7 linked regions of the Homo sapiens genome follow. The protein of the gene in region 2 purifies or fractionates together with the protein of the main gene of each other region. This does not show direct contact. Each region holds a gene or a part of one and is shown on either strand. Other genes may lie near its edges.

Region 1 (4,252 bases), on a different chromosome or scaffold from region 2:
CACCCTTAATCCCTCCTCTACATCTCCAGGCTGTCTACAGTACCAACTGCCCAGTGTGGGAGGAAGCGTTCCGGTTCTTCCTACAAGACCCTCAAAGCCAGGAGCTCGATGTGCAAGTGAGATAATCACCTCTTCATCCCCTCCCGAATACCCTATTCTGACTTCCCAGATCTGTACCATTTCTCCTCTCCTTCTTTTCCCTTGATTCCTATTTTTAATCCATCTACCTAGACTCCCCACCTCCCTGAATATCTCTCCATTGTTCCCCAACTGTCGCTCCAGAATAATATTTTTTTTTTTTTTTGAGATGGAGTCTCGCTCTGTTGCCCAGGCTGGGGTGCAGTGGTGCGATCTCGGCTTACCGAAACCTCCACCACCTGGGTTCAAGCAATTCTCCTGCCTCAGCCTCCCGAGTAGCTGGGATTACAGGCAGGCACCACCATGCCCGGCTAATTTTTGTATTTTTAGTAGAGACAGGGTTTCACCATGCTGGCCAGGCTGGTCTCGAACTCCTGACCTCAGATGATCCGCCTGCCTCAGCCTCCCAAAGTGCTGGGATTATAGGCATGAGCCACTGCACCTGGCCTTAGTTCATAGGTACTTGTTCTTGAATGATTTTATATATGTGTGTCTTGTCTATGAAACTGGCCAGTAAGCATTGTGAAAGCAGATGCTATGTTTCGTGCTTTCTCCATGACCTTTAAAATGCTGAATGTTAACAATTTTATTGAGGCATAATTTACATACCATAGAATCACTCATTTTAGGTATACAAAAATTATTCTGAGGCTGGGCACGGTACCTAAAATGAGTGATTTTATGGTATGTAAATTATGCCTCAATAAAATTGCTAACATTCAGCATTTTTTTTTTTTGAGACAGTTTCGCTTTTGTTGCCCAGGCTGGAGTGCAATGGCGTGGTCTCGGCTCACCGCAACCTCCACCTCCTGGGTTCAAGTGATTCTCCTGCCTCAGCCTCCTGAGTAGCTGGGATTACAGGGATGTGCCACCATGCCTGGCTAATTTTTTTTGTATTTTTAGTAGAGACGGGGTTTCTCCATGTTGGTCAGGCTGGTCTCGAACTCCCAACCTCAGGTGATCCGCCCGTCTCAGCCTCCCAAAGTGCTTGGATTACAGGCGTGAGCCACCGTGCCCGGCCCAACATTCAGCATTTTAAAGGTCATAGAAAAAGCACAAAACATAGTATCTGCCTTCACAATACTCACTGGCCAGTTTCAGTTTCATAGACAAGACATACACATATAAAATCATTCAAGAACAAGTACATATGAACTAAGGCCAGGCATGGTGGCTCACACCTGTAATCCTAGCACTTTGGGAGGCCAAGGCAGGTGGATCACCTGAGGTCAGGAGTTTGAGAATAGCCTGGTCAGCATGGTGAAACCCTATCTCTACTAAAAATACAAAAATTAGCCAGGCATGGTGGTGCGTGCCTGTAATCCCAGCTACTTGGGAGGCTGAGGTAGAATTGCTTGAGTCCGGGAGGCGGAGGTTGCAGTGAGCCAAGATAGCGTCACTGCACTCCAGCCTGGGTGACAGAGTGAGACTCCGTCTCAAAAAAAAAAAAAAAATCAAAAATTTGCCAGGTGTGGTGGCATGTGTCAGTAATCCCAGCTACTTGGGAGGCTGAGGCAGAAGAATCATTTGAACCCGGGAGGTAGAAGTTGTAGTGAGCTGATTTCAAGCACTGCACTCTAGCCTGGGTGACAGAGCAAGACTCTGTCTCCAAAAAAAAAAAAAAAAAAAAAAGGAACAGAAGAATAGCAACAATTACATATGAATTTGTGGGAGTAAAATATCCATAGTATAGGACTAAGGAGGGTCAGAGAAAGGGATAGGCTGGAGTAACTAGGGAGATTTTGTGAAGCAAAAAATTGGATTTTAATTGAGTCTTGAAGGATGAGTAGGATTTAAATAGGCCGAGGGAAGAGAATGAGGACTTTCCAAATAGTGGGAGCAGAATGAACAAAGGTGGAAGGGGCCATGGATTGGGCAGAGGACTATAAAAGATGGCTCTGGCCGAGGTGGGCGGATTGCCTGAGCTCAGGAGTTTGAGACCAGCCTGGGGAACACCATGAAACCCTGTCTCTACTAAAAAATACAAAAATTTAGCTGGGCGTGACGGCATGCGCCTGTAGTCCCAGCTATTTGGGAGGCTGAGGTAGGAGAATGGGTTGAACCCAGGAGGTCGAAGTTGCAGTGAGCCAAGATGGCGCCATTGCACTCCAGCATGGGCGACAGAGTGAGACTCTGTCTCAAAAAAAAAAAAAAAAAAAAGATGGCCCTGAGTGGAGCAGGAGGTTTGTGATTGGTACAGAGAGGAATGAAGTTGGAGCCATGTTATCATTTTCACAGTATGCCTCCCTTTCCCCTAATCCCTTCACTACAGTCCTTCCTCCTGTGCCTGTAGGTGAAGGATGATTCCAGGGCCCTGACTTTAGGAGCACTGACGCTGCCTCTGGCCCGCCTGCTGACTGCCCCAGAACTCATCCTGGACCAGTGGTTCCAGCTCAGCAGCTCTGGTCCAAACTCCAGACTCTATATGAAACTAGTCATGAGGGTATGGAAATAGAGGAGGTACTGAGGTGTGGGGGAAAGGCCTGTTGATTCTTTGGTATTAAGAGTAAGGAAAGGGACCCCCCTAAGATTAAAAGAGCTAATACATGTAGAAGTGCCAAGCAGGCACAAAAACATATATTGATCTGACTGGTGGAAGGAATGGCTTATGAGTTGAGGGGGTGTGGAGGGAACCCTGTAGAGATGAGCCCAGCCAGGGCAGCACCTAGTTCCCCTGTCACAGCCCCTCCTCTACCCCACCCCACATGCTTTGCCTGCTGGTGACGAGCTGCACTTCTTTGATTCAGCATCATACTACCCTTCCTAGATCCTGTACTTGGATTCATCAGAAATATGCTTCCCCACGGTGCCTGGTTGTCCTGGTGCTTGGGACGTGGACAGTGAGAATCCCCAGAGAGGCAGCAGTGTGGATGCCCCACCTCGACCCTGTCACACGACTCCTGATAGCCAGTTTGGGACTGAGGTGAGTCTATATCTGGAAAGGACTAGGGTCTGTTTGCCCCGCTAAGTATGCAAAGCCTGTTTCAGGGCAGATTCTGACAGGTCTCTCTCCCTTTGCCATCTGGCACCCCCCCGTCCCTTTTGCAGCATGTGCTTCGGATCCATGTATTAGAGGCCCAGGACCTGATTGCCAAAGACCGTTTCTTGGGGGGACTGGTGAAGGGCAAGTCAGACCCCTATGTCAAACTAAAGTTGGCAGGACGAAGCTTCCGGAGCCATGTTGTTCGGGAAGATCTCAATCCCCGCTGGAATGAGGTTTTTGAGGTCAGAATTGAGTGGCTGTGACTCCTGGTTCTGCCCCATTTTTCCCCCAATCCCAAAAGTGGTCCAGAAACCTCTGAGGTTCAGTTGACTGGGGGGTCCAGTCATTTGCAGAGGAAAAGGAGAGAATCTTTCATCTGCACTATTTTCTCCCACTAGGTGATCGTCACATCAGTTCCAGGCCAAGAGCTAGAGGTTGAAGTCTTTGACAAGGACTTGGACAAGGATGATTTTCTGGGCAGGTGAGAGCATAGGAGTCTACGTGAAAAACAGGCTGGGGCTCTTTAGGCCATGGAGTCTGGCCTCCTTGGTTCTCACCATCTAGCTTTTGTCTTAATCTTTCTCTTCAACAGGTGTAAAGTGCGTCTCACCACAGTCTTAAACAGTGGCTTCCTTGATGAGGTGAGCATTGAATTAGAGTCAACAACCCCTCCTGATCCTGCCCAAGCTTCATTCTCAAAGTTCTCCTGTCTGCATATCCCCAAGTCTTCACCCTGCCTACTTCCACAGTGGCTGACCCTGGAGGATGTCCCATCTGGCCGCCTGCACTTGCGCCTGGAGCGTCTCACCCCCCGTCCCACTGCTGCTGAGTTAGAGGAGGTAGGGCAGGAGACTTGAGGAAGGAAGGGACCCAAGGTGGGGCAGGATGAGCTCTTCTCTTAGCGTTCAAGGCACATGCCAGAACCCAAGGTGTCAGTTACCACTCCCCAGCCCCGTGTGCCCCTCCACAGGTGCTGCAGGTGAATAGTTTGATCCAGACTCAGAAGAGTGCGGAGCTGGCTGCGGCCCTGCTATCCATCTATATGGAGCGGGCAGAGGACCTCCCGGTGAGATCCCGCTCCCCATGCCCCATAACTTCCTGGCCCTTCTTCCACCTTCCTCCGGTTTGGAT
Region 2 (4,981 bases):
TCTTTTCTGATGATCCCCATGGCTAAAACAAAGCAGTTTAAAAATAAATCTTATTCAAAAGGAAAATGTAAAATTCTTTTTTTAAAAGAGATGGATATTACAACCTAAGTCAAGGAAATATCTCAATTCATATTCAAGTGTTTAATCATAGAGGTGAAGAAAAGCTGAATTGTTATTCTTTCTACACAGAGACAATTTGGGTCTATTTCTACCAAGTCAAACCAAGTAGCATGTAAAGAACTCAGGAGCACTTTAAATAAAGTTAAACATTAAATTGCAAAACCAAGTAACGTTTTCTGACTTGGATAATTCAGGGTCAGAAACATTTCCTGTGATATGTGAATCCCAAAGTTGATCATTATTTATCCCAGGGTCCAGAGTCCTTCAGAAATGACTCAGGGAAAAATCTTTTACCTAGAAAGGTGAAATTGACACTACCCCCACACGATAACGGGCTTAAATTTTCCATACTTAAATTCTTAAAGTGCAGATGGAAGAAATCTGTTTTTTTTCTTTTATGTTATAAAGAATATAATAAAACTTACCTGAAAGCATTGTGAGGATGACATGTAATAAATGCGCAGTAAATGGTAGCTCTGACTCCCCAGGACCCGGGTTCCTCCTTCTGAATTCTTGATCTGTGATATATACTGCCAGGCTCCCACTTCTCAGCCAGGGTGTTGAGAGGTAGTTTACTCACTCTCCTCTCACAATACAGTTCAAATAGGTATAAAGAGTCAAACTTAGAATCTAAAGGAGATCTCCTCAGGGCCATAAAGTAAGAAGGGATTTAAAGTCAAAGTGATGAGTATGAGCTAAGGCCAGGAAAGCCATTAAAGCACAGAACAAGGTGTAAATTTCCATGGCTGACTCTAATGCTCATATAAAGAAAGGAGTCTGGATTATGAACCCAAGGCATTCAGAGAGCTGGAAATAAACTACAGAAAGCTAGGAGTCTGAAGGCTTTGCCTCATCTATGAGACAAGGACAAGCAGAACTATACACATTCTTGGAAAGCAGTGACAGTGCTTTTGACTTCCTGGGTGTTAGCGCAAGAGTTAACCACAAGAAACTGAAAGAGTTTGGCCTTCACTGTGCACATGTAGGTATGCCAAATTTATGCCACTTATTTTCCAAAGTGGTTACAGAATGGCCCATAAATGCTACATGATAGCATGTGTGCAAATTTAGAAATAATACAAAGCATTATTACATATAGTTTGTGAATACTCATATAAATAGTAAGAATAGAAAAAAATGGAGAAATCATATTATATTTATGCCAGGCTTGTTTGGTTTGGTTTGGTTTGGTTTGCTGAGAAAAGGACAAGGACCCAGGGAAAGAGAAAGCAACAGAGTGAATGAAGTTCAAGTTTACCCATAATATTACAATTCACATATTTCAAAGAAGAAAAAAATTAACAAAATTTCAATTAAGGGGGAAAATCAAAAATAGCAAAGTAAAAAACACAAAAATACTGAACTCTTTAATTATAATTTATCTCTTTTTAACCTTTTCAAAAAAGACTAAAGACATTGAAGACACCACAAAGCAAAGCAAAATAGCTATATGCAAGTGTCTGAACCAGAGGACACCTATGAGGTCCTGAGGAGACACTCACAAGGGGAAGGTGGAGAAGCTTACATCAGCCAAAAAGCAGAAAGAACTGCAGAGGGGATTGGGCTGGATTTCCGAATGCTTCTTCAAAGCCTATTTGGCAAGAAGCCCTTCTGAGTCAACTTTGTAGTTTGATGACTTTTATTAATGATTAGCAACTTAAGCCCTAGGGTGGCAAAGAATCCTCATCTCTCTGCTCCAAAAAGTCCAAGGGAGTAAGCTTGGAGGAAACGCTGGGTTCAACTTGAAGCCCTTCCACAGACATTAAGTCGGTAAGTCACTTCTCTTGGTATTGAGATGAAGACCTCCAAAACTCTTTTCTGTATAGCAATGGACAATTTTTATATACTCCCCAACCCCAAGTTTCCTCATATGATAAAAATAAAAATGAAAAATGTAAAAATCCATATTAACAAGACTGACAAAAGTGAGGGAGAAGTGGCAGGAAGCTGAAGCTTTGTATCTGATCATCCATATGCTTTGAAACTAGCTAGTGGAGACAGTAGCAGCTATGGAAGATAATTCCAAGAAATAGGCACTCTTGCGAGGTGTTTAAAAGCAAAATTTTGCAGGTCAAACTGGCTTCTGAACAAATATCATCTCTTTCATTTACCAACTGGGTGACCTGGAGGAAGAGGGTCAGTAATATCTCCATCTGGGATTGATGTAGACTGGCTGGTGCAGTAATTTATAAGAGTGGCAATAATAATTATTTCTATTATACCAATGGCTAGGGTGGCTCTGGTCCAAGAAAGCATCTGGAGAAATGCTGCATCAAGATCCAGTGAGTTGGTGTGAAATTTAACCAAACTAAAATGGCTAGGGATAGAAGAGGAAATGGAGAGATGAGGCAATGGGACAGTCACCAGAGTCAGCAGAAGATGGTAGGTGGGCTGAGGGCAGTGGGAAGGAGGGAATCAGGGAGTCCTCAAGGCCAGAATGGAGAAGGTACAACTTTTTGTGGCAGCTGCAACTTCACAGATGTGTGGGAAGATGCTGTTAGAACACTCCCTGCCTTTAAACTAACCATCTCTACTGAAAGCTGATCCTCAATGTGGTTCTCTATGAACACTGCTTTGGACCAGAAACTTCTCAGAGTGCAATATATAGTTTCTGACCCAGATAACCAGCATAGCTTTTTAGTGGAAAATAAAGAGAGCTGTTAAAACAAAAGGGATTTACTTGAGTAAAGCCAAGGTGTAGACAGGCTATAAGACTGATTGGAAGGGCACATTTAAGAGAAGATAATGAGAGTGCATTTTCTATGTTGTGCTACTTGAGCCTGTTCTTGGCTCACCTGTGGGTGCCTTGGGATTTCCCTCTAGATTACTTCTCTTTCCTCTAGTTATAGCCCCAGGGTGTGGGAAGGGTCAGCAGAGCTTGAATCCAGCTTTTTAAGTCAGTGAAATGTTTTGAGGTTACCATGGCAGTAGGTGTCTGTCATGGTGAGGTGGGTAGACCACACCTGCTGGCAGGAGAAGATGTGACATCCTGGTTCACTTAGAGATAGGGTGTTGGTACAAGCTGTGTGCAGGTGGTAGACTGTCATGTGAAACCTTAGATAGCTTTAAAAAGTATTAATATTTTCAAAAGTCAGGAGACAAATGGGAAGATCGGTATGGAATCAGGGGACGTTGACCTGTCTGTGGAGACTGGAGATGATACTGATGAATAGAGGCAGTGGCAATGCAGATGCAGGGCTGGGTATGAAGGATGTCATCTTAGCAAGAGTACCCATGCTTTGCAGAAGAGGTCACATCATTGCAAAGGAAATCAGTGGGAAGTGAAGTCTGACTCATGTTTCAGGGTTTTCATGCCTGAAAAGCATTCATTATATATATAAATATATATATATGTATAAAATATACATATATATAGTAATGAATGTAGTATACATACTACATATCTATTTCTATATGTTTATGTAAGTGTGTGTCTTTGTGTCTTTGTGGATATAGATATGTAGTGTGTATACATACAAACACACCCACACACACAGACACACACACTTAGATGAACATTGTTTGATAAATTTCTTAAGCCCAAGAAGTCCATAAAACAATAAATTAAGCCCAAATTTGTAGCCTTTGCCTTTTTTTTTTTTTTTTTGGCGTTAAAGCTCGTATTATGGCCAATTCCAAGCTACCATCATGACATTACTGAATTCAGAGTTGGGGAGAGATGTGCAATAGCACATCTTTATACAGTATTCCCACCATATAGATACAAGAGATGTAAAAAACCTCAAGAGTGGAGCTTACAATAAAATGCCATGAAATAATTATGAAGTCATAAAGTTAAAATAATACCTTTTAAAAATATAATTAATTGAACTCTAAATTCATATCATTTAATGGATAATGGCTATGTTCAACAACTAGCTTGAAAAATTTCTAAAAACATTAATAATGAGCTCTTTTGGCCCCAAGTGAGTTGGTTCCAGTACATCATTGCCCTACTGTGCACTATTCTTTCTGAGAATAGTTTTAATTCCCTGCCTTAATTCAGGTTCTTCCATGCCTTTATCTATTTACATAATTTTTCCCTCTGATATAACTTACCATACTTGGATATGTCTGTTTGGTTGTTTCATTTCTCTTTTTAGGATCTTCATTTAACCTTAGAAACAAAAAGCCAACCATCCTTCCCATCAAGAAGTTATTGAATTTCTTGGATTGAGACAACAGTCAGATGCCACGTAGCCCTCATCTAAGTTATCTAAGGAAGGGGAAACTAAGAACTTGTTCCAACATCAATAATTCAGAGAACCCAGAGTCTTTTTTTTATTTTTTAATTTTTTTATTACACTTTAAGTTTTAGGGTACATGTGCACAATGTGCAGGTTTGTTACATATGTATACATGTGCCATGTTGGTGTGCTGCACCCATTAACTCATCATTTAACATTAGGTATATCTCCTAATGCTATCCCTCCCCCGCCCCCACCCCACAACAGGCCCTGGTGTGTGATGTTCCCCTTCCTGTGTCCATGTGTTCTCACTGTTCAATTCCCACCTATGAGTGAGAACATGCAGTGTTTGGTTTTTTGTCCTTGCGATATTTTGCTGAGAATGATGGTTTCCAGCTTCATCCATGTCCCTACAAAGGACATGAACTCATCATTTTTTATGGCTGCATAGTATTCCATGGTGTATATGTGCCACATTTTCTTAATCCAGTCTGTCATTGTTGGACATTTGGGTTGGTTCCAAGTCTTTGCTATTGTGAATAGTGCCACAATAAACATTCGTGTACATGTGTCTTTATAGCAGCATGTTTTATAATCCTTTGGGTATATCCCCAGTAATGGGATGGCTGGGTCAAATGGTATTTCTAGTTCTAGATCCCTGAGGAATCGCCACA
Region 3 (3,500 bases), on a different chromosome or scaffold from region 2:
TTTCACATATATTATGTATAATTCCCCCAACAATTCTATGAGGTATATGCTGTTATTATAAGACCTATTGTATGGATGAGGAAACTAAAGCACAGGGATGTTAAGTGACTTTCCCAAGGTCACACAGAAACTAAATGGCAGAGCCAAGTGGCAGTGTCATTCAAAACCAGGGCACAAAATGTCCTAAGTTCACCTTGTACTTTCCCTGCACCAGGTCTGGAAACAGACATTTCACCAACGATTCCTAGTTCACGTTATTGGGCAATGATATTTAGAAGCCAAGCTGTATACTGGCTGAGTGTGCTCATTACCACTAGGGTGTCTCTGCCCTTTTGATGGATAGAATTAGGGCATACTCTATGATTTTTTTCCACTTTATTTTGTTCTCTACAAAAGATATCTGGTCAGAGTACAGTGTGTTTAAGTTCTCAAAATCTTTAAGGAGTCACGTTGTTAATTTGTAGTATATTTTGCTTTTTTGTGTTTATTTTTTGAATTTGTGAAACATTTACATGGTTCCAAATTACATATAAAAGCATTCTTTTGGGAGACCAAGGTGGGATCACTTGAGCCCAGGAGTTTGCGACCAGCCTTAGCAACAGAGGGAGGCCCCATCTCTGCAAAATATAAATATAAAAAACATTAGCCGGGCATGATGTCATGTGCCTGTAATCCCAGCTACTCAGAAGGCTGAGGTGGGAGGATCGCTTGAGCGCAGGAGTTTGGGGCTGCAGTGAGCTACTACTGGGCCACTGCACTCCAGCCAGGATGACAGAGTGAGACTCTGTCTCTTTAAAAAAAAAAAAAAAAGTATACTTAGAATCATGCTTCCATTCTTATCCTCTTCAGTCAGTTCTCCCTGACCCCCCTAGACGGCTTGATAGTCTATTTTAACATGTGGGGGAACTAGACCCTCCTTATTGCTCTCCTATTTCAGGGTTAGTGAAGATTGTTAAAACTGGAAGCCCTCTGTGTAAAAGAGTACAGTGAAGCAAATATGCATACACACTGCCCATGGGAATGTACACTTACAGGACTGCTTTGGAAGTTAGGTAGATTTTACTATAAACCATAAAAATCTTTGCAATTTTTGATTTGACAGTGCTGAAGTAACTCATACAAAGATACATACAAAAATATTCATCACAATTTTTTTTTTTTTTTGAGACAGAGTCTTGCTCTGTTGCCCAGGCTGGAGTGCAGTGGCATGATCATGGCTCCCTGCAACCTCGACCTCCCAGGTTCAAGCAATTCTAATGCCTCAGCCTCCCAAGTAGCTGGGATTACAGGCTTGTGCCACCATGCTCAGCTAATTTTTGTATTTTTAGTAGAGACAGGATTTTGCCATGTTACCCAGGCTGGTCTCGAACTCCTGGGCTCAAGTGATCCGCCTGCCCTGGCCACCCAAAATGCTGGGATTTCGTGCATGAGCCACCACGCCCGGCCCTCATTATAATGTTTTTTTTGCGTGGTGAAAATTTTAAAACAGTTTCAGTGTCCATCTTTAGCCATTGAAACGGTATATTGGTATATTCAGAGAATATTCATTGACATTGTTAAGGTTCTAACAATACAATAGGTGAAAGAAAGCATTGTACAAAAAGTAATGTGTTTTGTACATAGGGAAAAGACAAGAAAATTCATAAAAATGTTAAGGCAGCATTTTTCATTTTCTTTGTACTTTTTATGCCGCCTTTATTATGGGCTGGCAAGTGGTTGTGTTGTGTTATTTTTTAATTTGAAGAATTTTTTTTACAAAGTCTAATCTTTTCTATTGTGTAAGAATCTGGAAGGTAGAAGTAGTAAAAATGATAGCCCTTGCCATTCTTTTTCATTGTGCATTAAAAATGTAAGCATTTTTTTCTTTTTTTTGAGAGAAGGTCTTGCTCTGTCACCCAGGCTGGAGTGCAGTGGCATGATGATGGCTCACTGTAGCCTTGACCTCCTGGGCTCAAGCAATCCTCCCACCTTAGCCTCCTGAGTAGGTGGGACTACAGGTGTGCACCACCATTCCCAGCTAATTTTTGTATTTTTTTTTTTGGTAGAGATGGGGTTTCCCCATGTTACCGAGGCTCATCTCAAACTCTTGAGCTCAAGCTGTCTACCCACCTCAGCCTCCAAAAGTGCTGGGGTTACAGATATGAGCCACTGCGCCTGGCCTATTTCTTAATATATAAGTTACTAAACTAATATCGCTATCCTTTGAATAGCTAACATTCCATAATTGATTTAGGGTTATAGTCCAAAGTTTACAGATTAGTTTCTGGGTGTCTTACCTCCATTCTTCAGATGGCTGCTTTTTTTTTTTTTTTTTTTTTTTCTGTTTTCTTGAGGACAAGTATTAGAAAGCCAAGTGCAGAATATATCTTCCATAGAAGCCGGCTTTTGTTATGGTAACTTCCCTCAAATGGGGTAGGTGTGATGGTACTCACCTTCATAAACATTTTTCTTTTTTAGCATCTCAAAGACAAATTTTGGAATTTTATTTTCTACAAGTTCATTTTCATCTTTGGTGTGCTGAATGTCCAGACAGTGGAAGAGGTGGTCATGTGGTGCCTCTGGTTTGCCGGACTTGTCTTTCTGCACCTGATGGTTCAGCTCTGCAAGGATCGATTTGAATATGTGAGTTTTTAGCCAAGCTTTTTGCTTGCTTAGTCACCACGTTTGCCAACTTTGAATTGTGTAATGTGAATGAGCCACAGCAGGCATGGTCAGGGTAGCTCTTCTGGGAAGACTTCTAGATCAGGCCCCCATTGCCTGTTTCTTGAAGAACTTTCTACAGCAGCCAAGAGATGCAGAATCGTTGTCTCCTGGGGAGCTTTCTTCCCAACCCCATAGTGTTTACTTACTGCTAACATGGGGTCACTTCACCTATGCAGACTGTTTTGTTCACAGTGCAAGGAAACCTTGATACATAAACAATAAAATCTGGTCTTTTCTAGATATTTTCTGTTCTAGTCTCCTTCTGTCTCTCCCAGCTTACTCTGGTTCGTGGAGCTCTTCTTTCTGAGTAGTTTATACTATTTCCACCCCGGGCCAGGACTGAATTAGCTCCCTCAGCTTCCTTGTTTGCGAAGTGAATCATTTTATGTCTGGTACAAGATCTGTCACTTGGTTTCAGATCATAGCTGTATGAGTGAACCTTCAACCCATTAGTGACCTGAAGTAGTCTCATGAGTCCCAGATAAATGTGCATCTACAGTGCTGCCCCTCAGTTAAACCCGCTCCAGGGCCTTGTTTTTCCCTGTCTTTACCCAGTCCACATGGACCTTGCACCTTGGTTTGAGTTAATCTCACTCTCACAGCCTTTATTTCTTTCACATTCAACCCTCATTTGAAGTCACAAACAGGAGCTTCTAACCTCCCAAACTGTTTTTTTTAATCTCCGCCTGTGACCTCAGGAGTTGCAGCTCTAGGCCTTCTTTTCAGACTGTTGCCTCTCCTTGCATAATGCTGACATCACGTTGTAGTAGTGGTAAACCTGTGCCTGGATTGCATTT
Region 4 (4,252 bases), on a different chromosome or scaffold from region 2:
TGGAACTCTGTTAATATGTCTCCTGGGGATGTAAAATGTTAAACAACTTGGGAAAACAGTTTGGCAATTTCTTAAAAAGTTAAACATACATCAACCATGTTATCAAGCCATTGTGCTTCTACATGTTTACCCAAGAGAAATGAAAGCATATGTTCATACAAAGATTTGCACACAGATGTGCATAGCAGCTTTATTTTTAATAGCCCCAAATGGGAAACAGTCCAAGTATCCACCAACAGGTGAATGGATAAACAAACTGGCATATCCATATAATGGAATACCATTAATATTTAACCACACATGTTTTGTCACATACCTGTCCATCTGTCCATCTCTCTATCCATGCAGCAATTCATATTATTAAATGTATTTCAGAATAAGTTGTAGAGATGAGCTCATTTCCTCCTAAATACTTCAGCATGTGTATCATTAGAGTGCAATATTTGCTTAGTTTTTTTCCTTTTGAGGTAAAATTTATGTAGAAGAAAATATACAAATCTTAAGTGTACATTGACTGAGTTTTGACAAATACATACACACATGTAACTCAAACCCAGTCAAGATATAGAACATGACCATCACCCCAGAAAGTCTTTTTCCTGACCTTTCCTAATTTATTCCTACCCTCATCTTCAGAGGCAACAAATACTCTAATTTTTTTCTTTCTGTCATACATACACATCTATTCTGCTTTGCTGAGAGTGTTTTCTTTTCCTTCAAGAATGTTGGAGCCAGGCATGATGGCTCATGCCTGTAATTTTAGCACTTTGGGAAGCTGAGGTGGCCAGATCAGTTGAGGCCAGGAGTTCGAGCCCAGCCTGGCCAACATGGTGAGACCCTGTCTCTACTAAAAATACAAAAATTAGCTGGGTGTGGTGGCGGGCACCTGTAGTCCCAGCTACTTGGGAGGCTGAGACACGAGAATCGCTTGAACATGGGAGGCGGAGGTTGCAGTGAGCCGAGATCGTGCTACTGCACTCCAGCCTAGGTGACAGAGCAAGACTCCGTCTCAAAAAAACAAAAACAAAAGAATGCTGGATTTTGTCAAATGTTTTTTTCTGCATCTATTACTATTATCACAGGATTTTTTTCTTTTTTAATCTGTTGGTGTGATACATTACATTAATTGATCTTTGAATGTTGAACTAGCCTTGCATACCTAGAATAAATCCCATTTGGTCATGACGTGTATGTTTAGCACTCAGTATCTCCAGGGGTTTAGTTCCAAGACCTGTGCAGATACCAAAGTCCACAACAGGGAGGGCATGGAAGCTCCCCACCACCTTACTTTGCTCTGTCCATCTCTTTATCTGTATCCTTTGTAATATCCTTTATGATAAACTGTTAAATATAAGTATTTCCCTGAGTTTTGTGAGTTATCCCAGCAAATTATCAAACCAAATAAAATCAGGTGCGAACCCTGATTTATAGCTGGTCAATCAGAAGCACAGATCACAGCCTGCGACTTGTGACTGACATCTGAAGTGAGGGGCAGTCTTATGGAACTGAGCCCTTACCATGTGGGATATGACATTATCTCTTTTTTTTTTTTTGAGACAGAGTCTCGCTCTGTCGCCAGGCTGGAGTGCGGTGGCGCAATTTTGGCTCACTGCAACCTCCGCCTCCCGGGTTCAAGTGATTCTCCTGCCTCAGCCTCCCGAGTAGCTGGGACTACAGGCGCCTGTCACCACACCAGGCTACTTTTTGTATTTTTAGTAGAGACGGAGTTTCACCATGTTGACCAGGATGGTCTTGATCTCTTGACCTTGTGATCCACCTGCCTTGGCCTCCCAAAGTGCTGGGATTACAGGCGTGAGCTACTGCGCCCGGCTCGATATGACACCCTTTCTAGGTAGATAGTGTCATTATTTAATTGAATTATAGTTAGTGTCTGTTGGAGAATTGTTTAGGGATTGGGGGAAAAACTTCACATATCTGGTTATCTAAGGGTTCTGTGTCGAATATGAGAGTAGAGAGAAAAACCTTTATTTTCCTTTGACAGTGTCTTATCATATTTATAGCTGTTTTCTGTTTTGTTATACTTGTTTCCTTTTTAAACAGTCTTCCCCTCCTCTTTTGCCCTCTCTGGTTTTAATTGATCATGTGATATGATTTAATTTTTTTCTCCTGTCTTAGCATACCAATTATGCTTCTTAAACAATTTATTTAAGTGGTTGTATTACAGTTTGTGCTGTTCACTTAAAACTAGTCCAAGTCCACGTCCAAATAACATTATAGGTCAGGTATAGTGGCTCACGCCTGTAATTCCAGCATTTTGGGGGACTGAGGCTGGCGGATCATTTAAGGTTAAGAGTACGAGACCTGCCTGGTCAACATGGTGAAACCCCATCTCTACTAGAAATACAAAAAATTTGCTGAGCATGGTAATGTGCGCCTGTAGTCTCAGCTACTCAGGAGGCTGAGGTATGAGAATCTCTTGAACTGGGAGGCAGTGAGCCGAGATTGTGCCACTTCACTCTAGCCTGGGCGACAGTGCGAAACTCTGTCTCAAAAAACACAAAAACAAAAATCCCACTATACTACTTCATGGAAAATGGAGGTAGTATATGTAATACTCTATCTTACAATACAGTATACAGATTCCTCCCTTCTGCCCATTGTAACATTGTTGTCATTAATTTCACTTACCTATAAGCTGTAATAATCCAATGCATTGCTGCTATTAGTATTTTAGACATTTTTCTATTAATTTAAGAATAAGGAAGAAAAGACTTAATTTACCTTCATCTCTTAATTCTCTAATGCTCCTGTGAATCTGAGTTTTTGGTTTAAATCATTTTCCTTCTTTCTGAAGAACTCCTTTATTTATTTGTTTTTTTTAATTTTTGAGATGGAGTCCTGCTGTGTTGCCCAGCCTGGAGTGCAGTGGCGCAGTCTCTGCTTACTGCAACCTCTGCCTCCTGGGTTCAAGCGATTCTCCTGCCTCAGCCTCCTAAGTAGCTGGGACTACAGATGCATGCCACCATGCCCAGCTAATTTTTGTATTTTTAGTAGAAATGGGGTTTCACTATGTTGACCAGAATGGTCTTGATCTCTTGACCTAGTAATCTGCCCGCCTCGGCCTCCCAAAGTGCTGGGATTACAGGTGTGACCCACCACACCCGGCCTATCTTAACCATTTTAAGTGTACACTTCATGTCATTAAGTACACTTACATTGTGCAACCATCACCACCATTCATCTCCTGACTTCACCATTATTCATCTCCTGAATTCTTCATCTTGCAAAACTGAACCACTTACCCGTTAAGCAATGACTACCCATTCCACCGTCTTCCCAGACCCCAGTAACCGTTATTCTACTTTTGATGTCTGTAAATTCGAATACTTGAAGTATAAGTGGAATTATACAGTATTTGCCATTTGTTATTGGTTTCTTTTACTTGGCATAATGTCCTCAAGGTGCATCCGTGTTGTAGGAAATGTCAGCATTTCAATAATTTTTCAAGCTAAATAGTATCCCATTGTATGTATATACTGCATTTTGTTTCTCCATTCATCTGTTGATGAATAGTTGGGCAGCTTCCACCTTTTGGCTGTTGTGAATAATGGTGTTATGAATGTGGATATTTTTCTTTGAAGTTCAGTCTGTGCTGTCAGATTTTTGGGTTACATACCCAGAAGCAGAATTACTGGATCATATAGTAATTCCATTATCAATTTTTTTGAGGAATTATCATACTACTTTCTATAGTGACTGCACCATTTTACATTCCTACCAACAGTGTACAAAGGTCACCATTTCTCCACATCCTCACCAACATTTATTTTCTCTTTTTTTGATAGTAGTTATCCTAATGGATATGAGGTGGTATCTTGTAGTTTTCATTTACATTTCTCTAATTAGTAATGTTGAACATCTTTTCATGGGCTTATTGACCATTTGTATATCTTAATTGGAGAAACATCTATTTAAGTCCTTTGTCCATCTTTTAATCAGGTTGTTTGTTTTTTGAGTTGTAAGAGTTTACATACAAACATACACACACACACACACACACACACACAATGTTAGCTGCTTATCAGATATATGATTTGCAAATATTTCCCATTTTGTGTGTTACCTTTTCTTCCTTTTTTTCCCTGCTAACTTTTATTTTAGGTTCATGGGGTACATGTGTGGGTTTGTTGTGTGGGTTAATTGTGTGTCACTGGGGTTTGATGTATAAATTATTTTGTCACCCAGGTAGAGAGCATAGTACCCGATAGATAGTTTTTTGATCCTCACCCTC
Region 5 (3,500 bases), on a different chromosome or scaffold from region 2:
TGAGGACATTCTATGAAAAATGGTTTTTTAGACACTACGATTGTCATTCCTACTCTAGATACCAAATTTTTTAGGCATATCACATCTTAGCATTAATTTCAATGCTTGTAAGAAGACTGAAATCAAGAGCTGTAAACTTTGACACGTAAGGCCTCTATATGGGTTATTTCTGTCTCTTGTGAACAGTCCACCTCAGGCAACAATATAGTGACTTTTTGACCCTTTGCTTAAGGGTTCCACTAAGTAATATTTAACCCACAAAAGATTATATTTGAAACAACATTTTCCACTATGAAAGAAATGTTCTACTAAAACTCAAAAAACAACAGTATGGTGATCTTTTAAGGGGTCAATACAGATCAAGAAACAAGCAGGAAAAGAATCTAAAAATCATAAAACTATGAAAAATCCAACAGATTAAGCTAGGAGATTCTAATATCTCCAAACAGTGAGTGATTTGAAGGCAGGAAATATATTTATTTTGCACTGCTCATGCATACAGGGCTGAAAATGGTAGGTATTCATGCTTAGTGAATGAAGGGAATGAACTAATTCCTAAAGTCCTTCTAAATCAAAACTAAAAAAGGTGTCTTGAGTATCGGTACAGAGAAAAAGGCAGAAGCAAAAACAATGTAAAATATAATCACACATATACATATATGAGAGATTTAACAATTTAAAATGCCACTAACACACAGCATACTTTAAAGAAACTTAGTTTTGCTTACGTCTTATTCTGCATTTGGCTTCTTCCATTAAAAGGTATATATCTACTCTATTTCATCTAACAGGGTCTCAAGTGATATCTAAAATTTTTACCTTCATCCATGAATAGAAATCTGGAGAGATCAAGAGAGACCTAATAATCTGAAAATTGCCAAAATATGTATTGAACAATATATCCAAATAGCAGTTAGGGAAATTCCTTGTAGAATGACAAGTATAAGCAGGACAAGATCTTTTCATAAGCAGCTCATCCAAATTTCCCTTTTATAAATTTTAGTAGTATAATTATAACTCCAAATGTTAAAAAGGTAATGGCAGATTTTTTTTTTAATGATAGAATAATATGTAGCTCAAGGTCATGACCAAAGTGACTCAACCAATGCTTAAATTATTTAAATAATTTTATCCTTCATCCCATAGACTTAAGGGAGTATAATTATTTAACTGAGTTAAGTAAACTGGGTAAATCAGCCTGCCCAATCTAGCCTCTTATAAGACAAAATTTAAATACTTGCACCCATAATGAATTCATGAAAAGAAAGAATAATGTTTTAATTTATTACATCATGGGTTTGGCTTTCTGGAAAACCTCTTCCTCCTCTGCCAAAAAGGGCAATTCGGTCATAATTACAAAGTCTCTGAGAAGATTCATACAAAGTCTGAAGTAACTTACCAAAGCTGATAAAAAGACTCCAATGCAGCTTTGAGGTTTTCCTAGACACTATTAAACAGTCAACTATGCAGCTCAGACAAAGAACGAAGCTACTCTAATGAATGAAAAAAATCCTAGGCTGGGCACAGTGGCTCACACCTATAATCCCAGAACTTTGGGAGGCCAAGGTGGGTGGAGCATGAGGTCTGGAGTTCGAGATCAGCCTGACCAACATGGTGAAACCTCGTCTCTACTAAAAATACAAAAATTAGCCAGGCGTGGTGGCGCACGCCTGTAATCCCAGCTACTCAGGAGACTGATTCTGTCTCAAAAACAACAAAAAAAAGAAAAAAATCCTACCAAAATTCATGCCACTTTAATATACATTATTATGCAAGTATCACTTGCATTGTCTAGCACATAAAATTATAAGTAATGTCACATTAACTATATGGTCAGTTCTTAATCATGTACATTTTGAACGCTAATGGAAATGTTTAATATCCAATTGGATTCCCTCTGCTATTCAAAATGTTTTCTAGACATCGTCATCACTTTGTGTGATCAAAAAACGCACCAGAGAAGCAACATTTGCCTATGATTTAGCAAGACTGCTATTATTTTACAACTAACCAGTCAACCAGTTTGCAGTCCCAAACCAAATATGTGTTTGGAATACTATCTATAACAATGATTCCCACTAATTAGTTAAGGTTGACTAAAAGTTTCCAAAAGAAGAAACACTGGAGAAAAATTCAGATTGCAAAGAAAAAAACATGATAATACTTTAATAACTCTTACTCCATCCAAGGAGATCTAATATGTAAAAATCCAGATTTACAGCAAGACTTCAGTTATCAAATAATGAGATTCTGAGATTTTTTAAACAGTTTTAATTCACAAAAATCAAATTTACTTACATGTTTTTAGAACACACAGTGAATTAAAAAAAATCCAGCTAGCTAAATATATAAGTTAAAGAACAGAAGAGAACTAGTATAAAGATTAATAAATACAAGTTTTATCATTTAAACACTACCTTTTAATATTTGAAGTTACTGAATAAATCATATGCAATAACAAAATAAGGAAAGCATAAAAAAAGAAAAATTAGAAAACTAGAATAAATGAGGATGTGTTATTGAAAATCTTTTCTTTTAAATCTCTTAACACAAATTTTTGTTGACATCCACTAAACTATTCAAGACTAAACCTAAAACTTTAGAGAGTGGTTCAGAATCCAATTTTAAATTTCTGTAGTTCTGTGGTTTTTGTTTTCAAATGATTCAACTATAGAGAAATTTTATTTTTAAAAAGATTTATTACATATATAAAATTAACCTATTGTACAAATACAATTCAATTGATTATAGTAAATTGATAGAGCTGTATAACCATCATCACAATCCAGTTATAGAACATTTCCATCATTCCAAAGAATTCTCTAGTTCTTATTTGTAGCTAATCCCCGCTCCCACCTCAAGTCCTAGGCAAGAAAGATCTGCTTTCTTTTTCTATATACTGGCCTTTTCCAGACATTTCACATAAATAAAATCATACAATATATAGTCTTTTACATCTGGCTTCTTTAATTTAGCATAGTTTCTGAGGTTCATCAATGGTGTAGCATGTTTCACAAATTGGTCCTTTTATTGCTAAATAGTTCCTCATTGAATGTATATAGCACATTTTGTTTAATTCACCAATTTATGGTGCTTTCAGATTGTTTCCAGTTTGGGGCTATTATAAATAATGCTGCTATAAGCATTCAGGTACATGTCTTTGTGTGGACATGTTTTTGTTTCCCTTTTATAGATTCCTAAAAGTAAATTTGAGTTATCCGTATTTTTTTTCTTTCCTTTGCTTTTTCTAGAGGTAGGGTCTTGCTATGTTGCAAAGGCTGGACTCAAACTCTTGGGCTCAAGCAATCCTTCAGCCTCAGCCTCCCTATTAGCTGAGACTACAGGCATATGCCACCTCACCCAGCTAGCCAACTGTTTTTAAAACAAAGCATTTTAAATTGTGAATATTCAGAACACAAATATACTGTGTTCTGGATTACTGGTTCTTTCACTCCTAAATACATAAATTTAGCATATGCAACTTACATACTTTTCAGTTT
Region 6 (4,252 bases), on a different chromosome or scaffold from region 2:
CTAGCACTTGATACAGATTTGACTCATTATTATTAATGGCTGCATAATATTCCATTGTGTGAATGTACCATGATTTATTTTTTAATTTAATTTTTTGAGACAGAGTATCACTCTGTCACCCATCCTGGAGTGCAGTTGTGCAATCTTGGCTCACTGCAACCTCCGCCTCCCGAGTTCAAGTGATTCTCCTGCCTCAGCCTCCTGAGTAGCTGGGATTACAGGCTTGTGCCACAAGGCCTGGCTGATTTTTATATTTTTAGTAGAGATGGGGTTTCACCATGTTGGCCAGGCTGGTCTCGAACTCTTGGCCTCAAGTGATCCACCTGCCTCCACCTCTCAACATGCTGGGATTACAGGCATGAGCCACCATGCCCATCTAGCATAATTTATTTAAGCAGCCCCCGCTAGTGGAAATTATGATTGACATTATTTTTTTTAATTATATACTGGTACAGGTGTTGAGTAGAGTCTGAGACACGGAGTTTTTGTGTCAAAGTCCATGTATATGTTCAGTTATTATTATTTTTAGACAGGGTCTTGCTCTGTTACCTAGGCTGGAGTGCAGTGGTGTGATTGCAGCCTCGACCTCCCAGGCTTAAGTGATCCTGCCACCTCAGCTTCCCAAGTAGCTGGACTAAATTTTTTTATTTTTTATAAAGACAGAGTCTCACTATGTTGTCCAGGCTGATATGGAACTCCTGGGCTCAAGTGATCCTCCTACCTCAGCCTCCCAAAGTGGTGAGATTATAGGCATTAGCCACTGCACTGGGCCATGTGTACGTTAAATTTAAAATGTTCTCTAAAAGGCATTTTATACTTCTAGCAACAATGTATGAGAATGTTTTTTCTTTCCAAATCCTCACTGCCTCTGAATTTGAGTCTTATGTATATTTTATGAATCTTGCTTTTCTCTGATCATTGGAGAGATAGAACAAATTTTCATACATATATTAACAGTTTGTGTTTTTCTTTTGTTAATTCTGTCTTTATAACTTTCACTCATTTTTCTAGTGAGCTTATATATATTTGTATATTATACAAATTCTGTCAATTATATAGCAAATAACTTTTACTGTTGCTTACATTTTTTTTTGTTATTGTTTTTTAACTGGATGCAGATTTTTTTTTTATACTTTAAGTTTTAGGGTACATGTGTACAACGTGCAGGTTTGTTACATATGTATACATGTGCCATGTTGGTGTGCTGCACCCATTAACTCGACATTTAACATTAGGTATATCTCCTAATGCTATCCCTCCCCGCTCCCTCCACGCCACAACAGGCCCCGGTGTGTGATGTTCCCCTTCTTGTGTCCATGTGTTCTCATTGTTCACTTCCCACCTATGAGTGAGAACATGCGGTGTTTGGTTTTTTGTCCTTGCGATAGTTTGCTGAGAATGATGGTTTCCAGCTTCATCCATGTCCCTACAAAGGACATGAACTCTGGATGCAGATTTTAAATTTTCATGTAGTTAAGTCTGTTATTCCTTTATGGTTTCTAGATTTTGTGACATGCTTAGGGAGGCCTTCCTCATTGTAAGATCACCAAAATAATCACTTGTGGTTTCTTGCATTATTTTTAAATTATTATTTTGTATTCAATATCTATATTAAAAGAAGTTTGGAATAAGTTGACTTTCTAGGAGTCATTTTATCTCTGTTAGTCCTTGACTAATTGGATTTTTTTTTTTCACAGACCCTCGTCCTTTATGCCCTTGGTGTGGTACTTCAGGATCCTAATACTTGGCCATCTCCACACAAGTATGAAATATTTGTCATTGTATTTGTGACTGTCAGTTTTTGTGTTTGCACGTTTTGCATTCCTTTCCTAACTGTTGAGTAGAAAACTCAATATGTAGCAATGATACAACAAAAGAAAACTAGTGAATCCCCTTTTCTTCTCTTTCTTTTGAGACAGGGTCTCACTCTGTCATCCAGGCTGGAATGTAATAGTGCAATCACTTCTCACTGCAGCTTCGACCTCTCTGACTCAAGCCATCCTTCTGCGTCAGCCACCTAAGTAGCTAGGACCACAGGCGCGTGCTGCCACGCCTGGTTCATTTTTGTACTTTTTGTACAGATGGGGTTTCACCATGTTGCCCAGGCTGGTCTTGAACTCCTGAGCTCAAGCCATCCTCCCACCTCTGCCTCCCAAAGTGGTGGGATTACAGGCATGAACCACCAAGCCTGACCTGCATCCCCATTATATCTTCTGTTGACTGCTTTTTCTCTTATGTGAATCTGCTATTTGCTACTCTTTGTCTCTTTTATTACCACTTTTATACTAAGTGAAAAGTAATTAACATCTGTTTTAAGAAAATTAAAGCAGGCCGGGCACCGTGGCTCATGCCTGTAATCCCAGCACTTTGGGAGGCTGAGGCGGGCGGATCACAAGGTCATGAGTTCAAGACCAGCCTGGCTAACATAGCGAAACCCTGTCTCTAATAAAAATACAAAAATTAGCTGGGCATGGTGGCGCATGCCTGTAATGCCAGCTACTCGGGAGGCTGAGGCAGGAGAATCACTTGAACCTGGGAGGCAGAGGTTGCAGTGAGCCAAGATCATGCCATTGCACTCCAGCCTGGGCAACAAGAGCAAGACACAAGACTCCGTCTCAAAAAAAATTTTTAAAAAAGCAGAATTTCTCTCTCTTTTTTTTTTTTTTTTTGAGATGGAGTCTCGCTCTGTCGCCCAGGCTGGAGTGCAGTGGTATGATCTAGTGTCACTGCAAGCTCCGCCTCCCAGGTTCAAATAATTCTCCTGCCTCAGCCGCCTCAGTAGCTGGGACTACAGGCACCCGCCACCACGCCCAGCTAATTTTGTGTAGTTTTAGTAGAGACAGGGTTTCACCATGTTAGCCAGGATGGTCTCGATCTCCTGACCTCATGATCCACCCGCCTCAGCCTCCCAAAGTGCAGGATTACAGCCACTGCGCCCGGCCTCTTTTTTTTTTTTTTCCCCAGTGCATTTTTCTGTTCTTTATTGCTTCTCTTTTTGCTTTTTTTAAATTTATTTTTTATTTCAATAGGTTTTTGGGGAACAGGTGGTATTTCTTTGGTGGTGATTTCTGAGATTTTGGTGCAACCGTCACCCAAGCAGTGTACACTGTACCCAATGTGTAGTCTTCTATCCCTCATCGCCCCACCGTTTCCCCCAAGTCCCTAAAGTCCATTGTATCATTCTTATGTCTTTACGTCCTCATACCTTAGCTCCCAAGAATTTCCCTTTTTTAAAAATTCAGAGTTTAAGTCGTTTAAAAATACTTGTTTTTGCAAGGAATTTTTTTGTTCTGTGGTACGTGGGTTATTTGTTTTGTTTTTAATATATGCATTTCTTCAATGACTTTACAGAGTGAAATTCTATAGAACAAAAAATGTTTCTTAGGCCCTTCATTTCCCTGACTTTATTTTTTATTTTTATTGTTTCTTTAGGGACAGAGACAGGGTCATGCTCTGTCACCCAGGCTGGAGTGCAGTGATGTAAACACAGGCTCACTGCAGCCTCAACCTCCTGGGCTCAAGTAATGCTCCTACCTCACCCTCCAGAGTAACTGGAACTATAGGTATACGCTACCATGCCTGGCTAATTTTTTTTAATTTTTAATTTATTTTTATTTTTATTTTTTTCGAGACAGAATCTCGCTCTATTGCCAGGCTGGTCTTGGAATAAGCAAGACGCCAACTATGAAAAATAATGGGCTGGGCACAATAACCTGTAATCCCAGCACTTTGGGAGGCCGAGGCGGGCAGATCACCTGAGGTCGGGGGTTTGAGACCAGCCTGACCAACATGGAGAAACCCCTTCTCTACTAAAAATGCAAAATTAGCCAGGTGTGGTGGCGCATGCCTGTAATCCCAGCTACTCGGGAGGCTGAGGCAGGAGAGGTGGAGGTTGCAGTGAGCCGAGGTCATGTCATTGCACCCCAGCCTGGGCAACAAGAATGAAACTCCATCTCAAAAAAATAAAAAATAAAATAAAAAATAATGATAATAATCACACATATATAGAGTACGCTTTTCATTCGCTTTAATCCAGATACCCTCCTAGAATTCAGTGGCTTAAGAGAAGCAACGTGTATCTTTTTTTTTTGGACGGAGTCTCAATCTGTTGCCAGGCTGGAGTGCAGTGGTGCAATCTTGGCTCACTGCAACCTCCGCCTCCCGGGTTCAAGCGATTCTCCTGCCTCAGCCTCCCAAGTAGCTGAGACTACAGGCATGCACCACCACGCCCAGCTAATTTTTATGTTTTTAG
Region 7 (4,252 bases), on a different chromosome or scaffold from region 2:
TGAAACAGAGTCTTGCTCTGTCGCTGTCACCCAGGCTAGAGTGCAGTGCCACCATCTCGACTCACTGCAACCTTCACCTCCTGGGTTCAAGCGATTCTCATACCTCAGCCTCCCAGATAGCTGGGATTACAAGCATGCGCCACCACGCCTGGCTAATTTTTGTATTTTTAGTAGAGACAGTAGAGATGGAGTCTCATTTTGTTGGCCAGGCTGATCTTGAGCTCCCGGCCTCAAGTGATCCACCTGCCTTGGCCTCCCGAAGTGCTGGGATTGCTGGCATGAGCCACCATGCCTGGCAGCTTCGGTACCTTTTCACTTTGCTCTGGCAGCCCCTAGGTTGCAAACACTGGAACCCTTTTATGTATATACCCACTTGCTTCATACCTTCACCTTTCTTCTAGCTTCCTTCATGTACCATTAAAAGAGCTCATCATTGGAAGCTACAGAGGGTCCAAGGCCAGAAAATGAGTGGGGCTCAACTGGCCGGGCTCTGTGGCTCACGCCTGTAATCCCAGCACTTTGGGAGGCTGAGGTGGGCGGATCACAACGTCAGGAGATCAAGACCATCCTGGCTAATACGGTGAAACCCTGTCTCTACTAAAAATACAAAAAATTAGCCGGGCGCGGTGGCTGGTGCCTGTAGTCCCAACTACTCAGGAGGCTGAGGCAGGAGAATGGCGTGAACCCGGGAGGCGGAGCTTGCAGTGAGCCTAGATCGCACCACTGCACTCCAGCCTGGGTGAGAGAGTGGGACTCCGTCTCAAAAAAAAAAAAAAGAAAAAGAAAAGAAAATGAGTGGGGCACAACTTCTTAGCATGTCAGGCTTGGGTTATCTGGTCCAGAGCCATGTCTAGGCTTTATGGGGAACTTAAATGTTCAAGGGCATCCAGGCCAGCAGATGGAGCTGGGATATGTAGTCTGGGCCTTCCCTGGAAGTACAGGTTCCCTGTACTTCCCTTCAAATATGGGACAGCCTTTACCCTGCCTCTAGGGAGCAGAGGCTGAAGTTGTGGGTCCAGCAGCTGCATAAGTACAAGGGTCAGATAGTACCTTTTATATTGGACCCTTGGTGTTTTATGAGGCTGTCTACTTAATGGCTTTCTTGGTTTAGCAACATTCTTCATGATCACTAATTGCTTAGTACTCTTTCCATCCCCATTTTATTTAAGAATGAACATGTAAAAATCTTTAAAATCATAATGAAAACTAAGTTGACATCTCTGTTTTTTTCTAAAAAATCAAAAAAGCTGATTGTCCTAAATTGTGTAGATCGTGGGAATATTGTGTAATGAGGAAAAAAAAATAAAGGCTTTAAGAGAGAATTCTAAAATGCTTAATTTCAAAGAAAGTAGTTAAAACATCAGTCTTCTGATGAATTTCTAACCATTCCCCCACGTATACAACTTACTACATTTTGTGCTTTTAATTCGCTCTGGAACGTTGTTGTCAATGAATTTGGTTTGATTACTCGGGAGAAATTCCAAGTAGAATTGTATACACAGGGGGAATTTGTTGGGATAATGAATTGACTCACTTTTTGTTAAGGAAAAGTATCACAGTTTAATCACCTTGTCTGTGCTGAAAACGTTTTAAGTAAATGAATATTGTTTGCTTTTCTAGGGAAAATATGCACGGCATGTATTACTAATTTTAATGCAGCTGTATCATCCAACCAGCTTGTTTAATGTTAGGTAACACATTATCCTCTGTCCTGTTGCCTTCTCTGGAAACCCAAAGGATAAATAAATGGTACTATACAAATAGGGTAGGCCCTTTAGAAACAGATGTGTGGTACCATTAGGTATGTATTCTTCACTTTACAAGAGCTGCCAGTACTCCACATCTGCCAGGGTACTGTGGAGCAGTTTTATAACTTCCTCCATGGTTGCCATCAACCATAAATCATCAAGCAAAAGGTACTTGCCCCTTTGAAGAGCAAGTAAGTCATAACCGCAACTTCAGATTTGAAGTTCCTATCCGTAAGTTGAATAGTTTGGGGTTGTGAACTCAATATTTAAAATCCCAGGAAAACAGAAAGGAGAAGGAGGGGCAAGTAGGACAACCAGAAAATGACCTCTGTTCTAGAGCACTGTCCAGTAGAACTCTCTGTGATGATAGAAACGTTCTGTATCTCCGCTGTTCAGTATGAAAGCCATTAAACACGTGGCTGTTGAGCACTTGAAATGTGGCTAGCATTACTAAGGAACTGAATTTTAATTGTATGTAATAGATTTAAATTCAGAATAGCCACATTTGACTAGTGGCTACAGTACTTAGACGGTGCCATTCTAGAGAGTCTGGGTGCATAGCCTGACACATGATCTTTTTGGATACTGTGTCTTCCCTTCCAAACCCTTCTAGCCCTAAATTGTTCTACAAAAAATACTCAGGATTTATGTAGGCCAGTGTTGGAATTTATAATCCCAGTAGTTTGCATTCTTCCTGAACAGGCAATAGAATAACACTTGCTGCTTTATGGCTTTTGAACCAGACTCTACTCTCGGATTTGATGGTCCACTCACAGACTGTTCACCTCCCTTTGTTGCCGTGCCTCTGGCTCTGTTACAGGAATCTGTACAAATTGGCCCACTCGATATGCACTGTAGTAAGCTGGATTCATGTGATATTTATTCCTTCCTCCCCAGGTTTGCTCTTCGTTTTATACGGCCTGACCCTCGCAGCCGGGTCACTGACCCCGTTGGGGACATTGTTTCATTTATGCACTCTTTTGAAGAGAAATATGGGAGGGCACACCCTGTCTTCTACCAGGGAACGTACAGCCAGGTCAGTGCCATAAACCATATAGATGCCAACTTACCGAAATGATTCTATCCTCAAAGGAGAGCACAGCCCAGCACTGATCATGTCCTTCTTGTACTCAAAAACCTTAATTAGCTCTTCACTGCTTATAGGGGTGGGTAATAAAAAAGACCAAACCTTTTAGCTGGCCCCTCTTTGATCTAATGCTGCCCTTCTTTTGAGGTCTTTTCTGCATAACTTATTTTACCATACCCTCAGTTCCAGCTGACTCATTCCCTGAACATAGTCTGTACTTGCCTACCTCTGTGCCTTTGCTTTTGCCGGTCCATCCACGTGGAATGCCTTCCTCACATTTTTGCTAATTGGAATCTTGCCAGTCCTTCAACTAGATTATGTCACGCCCCACTTACAGCTATCCCTGATTGTTGTGCCCTGTCCTGCCCTATCTCATCATCTAGAATACTAATCTTTCCCTTTGTTCTTCCATAGCTTTTAAAAATTGATAGCAATTTTATATTCTTTCCTATATCATTTGTGTTCGTGTCTAATCTCTGCTACCAGACTGAAAGCCCCTTGAAGGCAAAGCCTACATCTTCTTTGATCTCTCACAGAATTGAATAAGGACATAGACCATAGACTCAGGGTAGCACATCTCATTCAACCTCAGCCATGTAGACCTTTGACTCAAGACCTCACCATTCAGGGGAGGAAAAATTAGAGTTCTGTGGGTGTTTGGTATATCTCTAGTTTGCCAGAGAAATACATAGAATTAACACTACAGGAATAGGGAAAACTATGGGAATGCTGTGGCAATAGGCAAAAGGGGGTTCTATTATGCAGCCTCCAGAATTCCTGAATCTATCTGGAGAAAGAAAAATGCTCACCCTTGCTTCCTGCTTTCATTTTCCCACATCTGCTTTTTATCATAGTCAGTCTCCTCGCTGGCTGTTCCCACCACACTCAACAAAAACTGAGCACCTACTGTATGCCAGGCAATGTCCTCAGTGCTAGAGATACAGAGATGAGTGAGATGAGCACCTCCTGTGTACCCTCTCTGCTATGATCCTGAGGGTAGACCACCCTTGACCATGTCAGCAGTCGTACAGTGTAATGTGCTCAGGAGCACGCACATGCAGGAGCACGCACAGGAGTCTTCGGCGCTAGCCTTGTCTTTGAAAGTCTTTTACACCCTATGCTCTTTAGAATGCCTTTGGATCGTACAGTCCATCATTCCTACTCGATATGTGGCCTGGGATCAGGGTTGTCTTCGCAGTTATTTTTTACTTACAAGGATGTTGTAGCTGTGAAGTAGAAAAATTCTCACCTCCCTTTCATATGGTCAGATTCTCCTGTTTTTATCTTCCTTAGACTGTGGGTGCAGCTGACTTTTCTGTGGTTTGTTGGGAACCTGTGTTTGTAAGCCTGTCTACTCTCATGTGTCTGTTAAGTTTGAATCCTAACAACACTAAAACCTTTTCATTAAAGCTTGTTA

Evidence for each region.
Region 1: the proteins of SLC17A3 (region 2) and ESYT1 purify together in Homo sapiens (affinity purification with mass spectrometry; one large-scale study listed by BioGRID and IntAct). This does not show direct contact.
Region 3: the proteins of SLC17A3 (region 2) and AMFR purify together in Homo sapiens (affinity purification with mass spectrometry; one large-scale study listed by BioGRID and IntAct). This does not show direct contact.
Region 4: the proteins of SLC17A3 (region 2) and VPS13A purify together in Homo sapiens (affinity purification with mass spectrometry; one large-scale study listed by BioGRID and IntAct). This does not show direct contact.
Region 5: the proteins of SLC17A3 (region 2) and DNAJB4 purify together in Homo sapiens (affinity purification with mass spectrometry; one large-scale study listed by BioGRID and IntAct). This does not show direct contact.
Region 6: the proteins of SLC17A3 (region 2) and CYP20A1 purify together in Homo sapiens (affinity purification with mass spectrometry; one large-scale study listed by BioGRID and IntAct). This does not show direct contact.
Region 7: the proteins of SLC17A3 (region 2) and FAF2 purify together in Homo sapiens (affinity purification with mass spectrometry; one large-scale study listed by BioGRID and IntAct). This does not show direct contact.

Annotation. Positions count from the first base shown.
Region 1 is NC_000012.12:56,134,313-56,138,564, forward strand, and holds part of ESYT1 (extended synaptotagmin-1), read left to right. Parts: intron 1-29; coding exon 30-116; intron 117-2,431; coding exon 2,432-2,581; intron 2,582-2,905; coding exon 2,906-3,061; intron 3,062-3,186; coding exon 3,187-3,363; intron 3,364-3,519; coding exon 3,520-3,602; intron 3,603-3,713; coding exon 3,714-3,762; intron 3,763-3,870; coding exon 3,871-3,960; intron 3,961-4,091; coding exon 4,092-4,187; intron 4,188-4,252. UniProt on the Homo sapiens protein: Binds calcium (via the C2 domains) and translocates to sites of contact between the endoplasmic reticulum and the cell membrane in response to increased cytosolic calcium levels.
Region 2 is NC_000006.12:25,871,076-25,876,056, reverse strand, and holds the start of SLC17A3 (sodium-dependent phosphate transport protein 4), read left to right. Parts: upstream 1-1,813; 5' UTR 1,814-1,890; intron 1,891-4,981.
Region 3 is NC_000016.10:56,408,546-56,412,045, reverse strand, and holds part of AMFR (E3 ubiquitin-protein ligase AMFR), read left to right. Parts: intron 1-2,457; coding exon 2,458-2,622; intron 2,623-3,500. UniProt on the Homo sapiens protein: E3 ubiquitin-protein ligase that mediates the polyubiquitination of lysine and cysteine residues on target proteins, such as CD3D, CYP3A4, CFTR, INSIG1, SOAT2/ACAT2 and APOB for proteasomal degradation.
Region 4 is NC_000009.12:77,183,608-77,187,859, forward strand, and holds part of VPS13A (intermembrane lipid transfer protein VPS13A), read left to right. Parts: intron 1-4,252. UniProt on the Homo sapiens protein: Mediates the transfer of lipids between membranes at organelle contact sites. Binds phospholipids. Required for the formation or stabilization of ER-mitochondria contact sites which enable transfer of lipids between the ER and mitochondria.
Region 5 is NC_000001.11:78,007,939-78,011,438, reverse strand, and holds part of DNAJB4 (dnaJ homolog subfamily B member 4), read right to left. Parts: intron 1-3,500. UniProt on the Homo sapiens protein: Probable chaperone. Stimulates ATP hydrolysis and the folding of unfolded proteins mediated by HSPA1A/B (in vitro).
Region 6 is NC_000002.12:203,290,565-203,294,816, forward strand, and holds part of CYP20A1 (cytochrome P450 20A1), read left to right. Parts: intron 1-1,697; coding exon 1,698-1,762; intron 1,763-4,252.
Region 7 is NC_000005.10:176,489,549-176,493,800, forward strand, and holds part of FAF2 (FAS-associated factor 2), read left to right. Parts: intron 1-2,645; coding exon 2,646-2,784; intron 2,785-4,252. UniProt on the Homo sapiens protein: Plays an important role in endoplasmic reticulum-associated degradation (ERAD) that mediates ubiquitin-dependent degradation of misfolded endoplasmic reticulum proteins.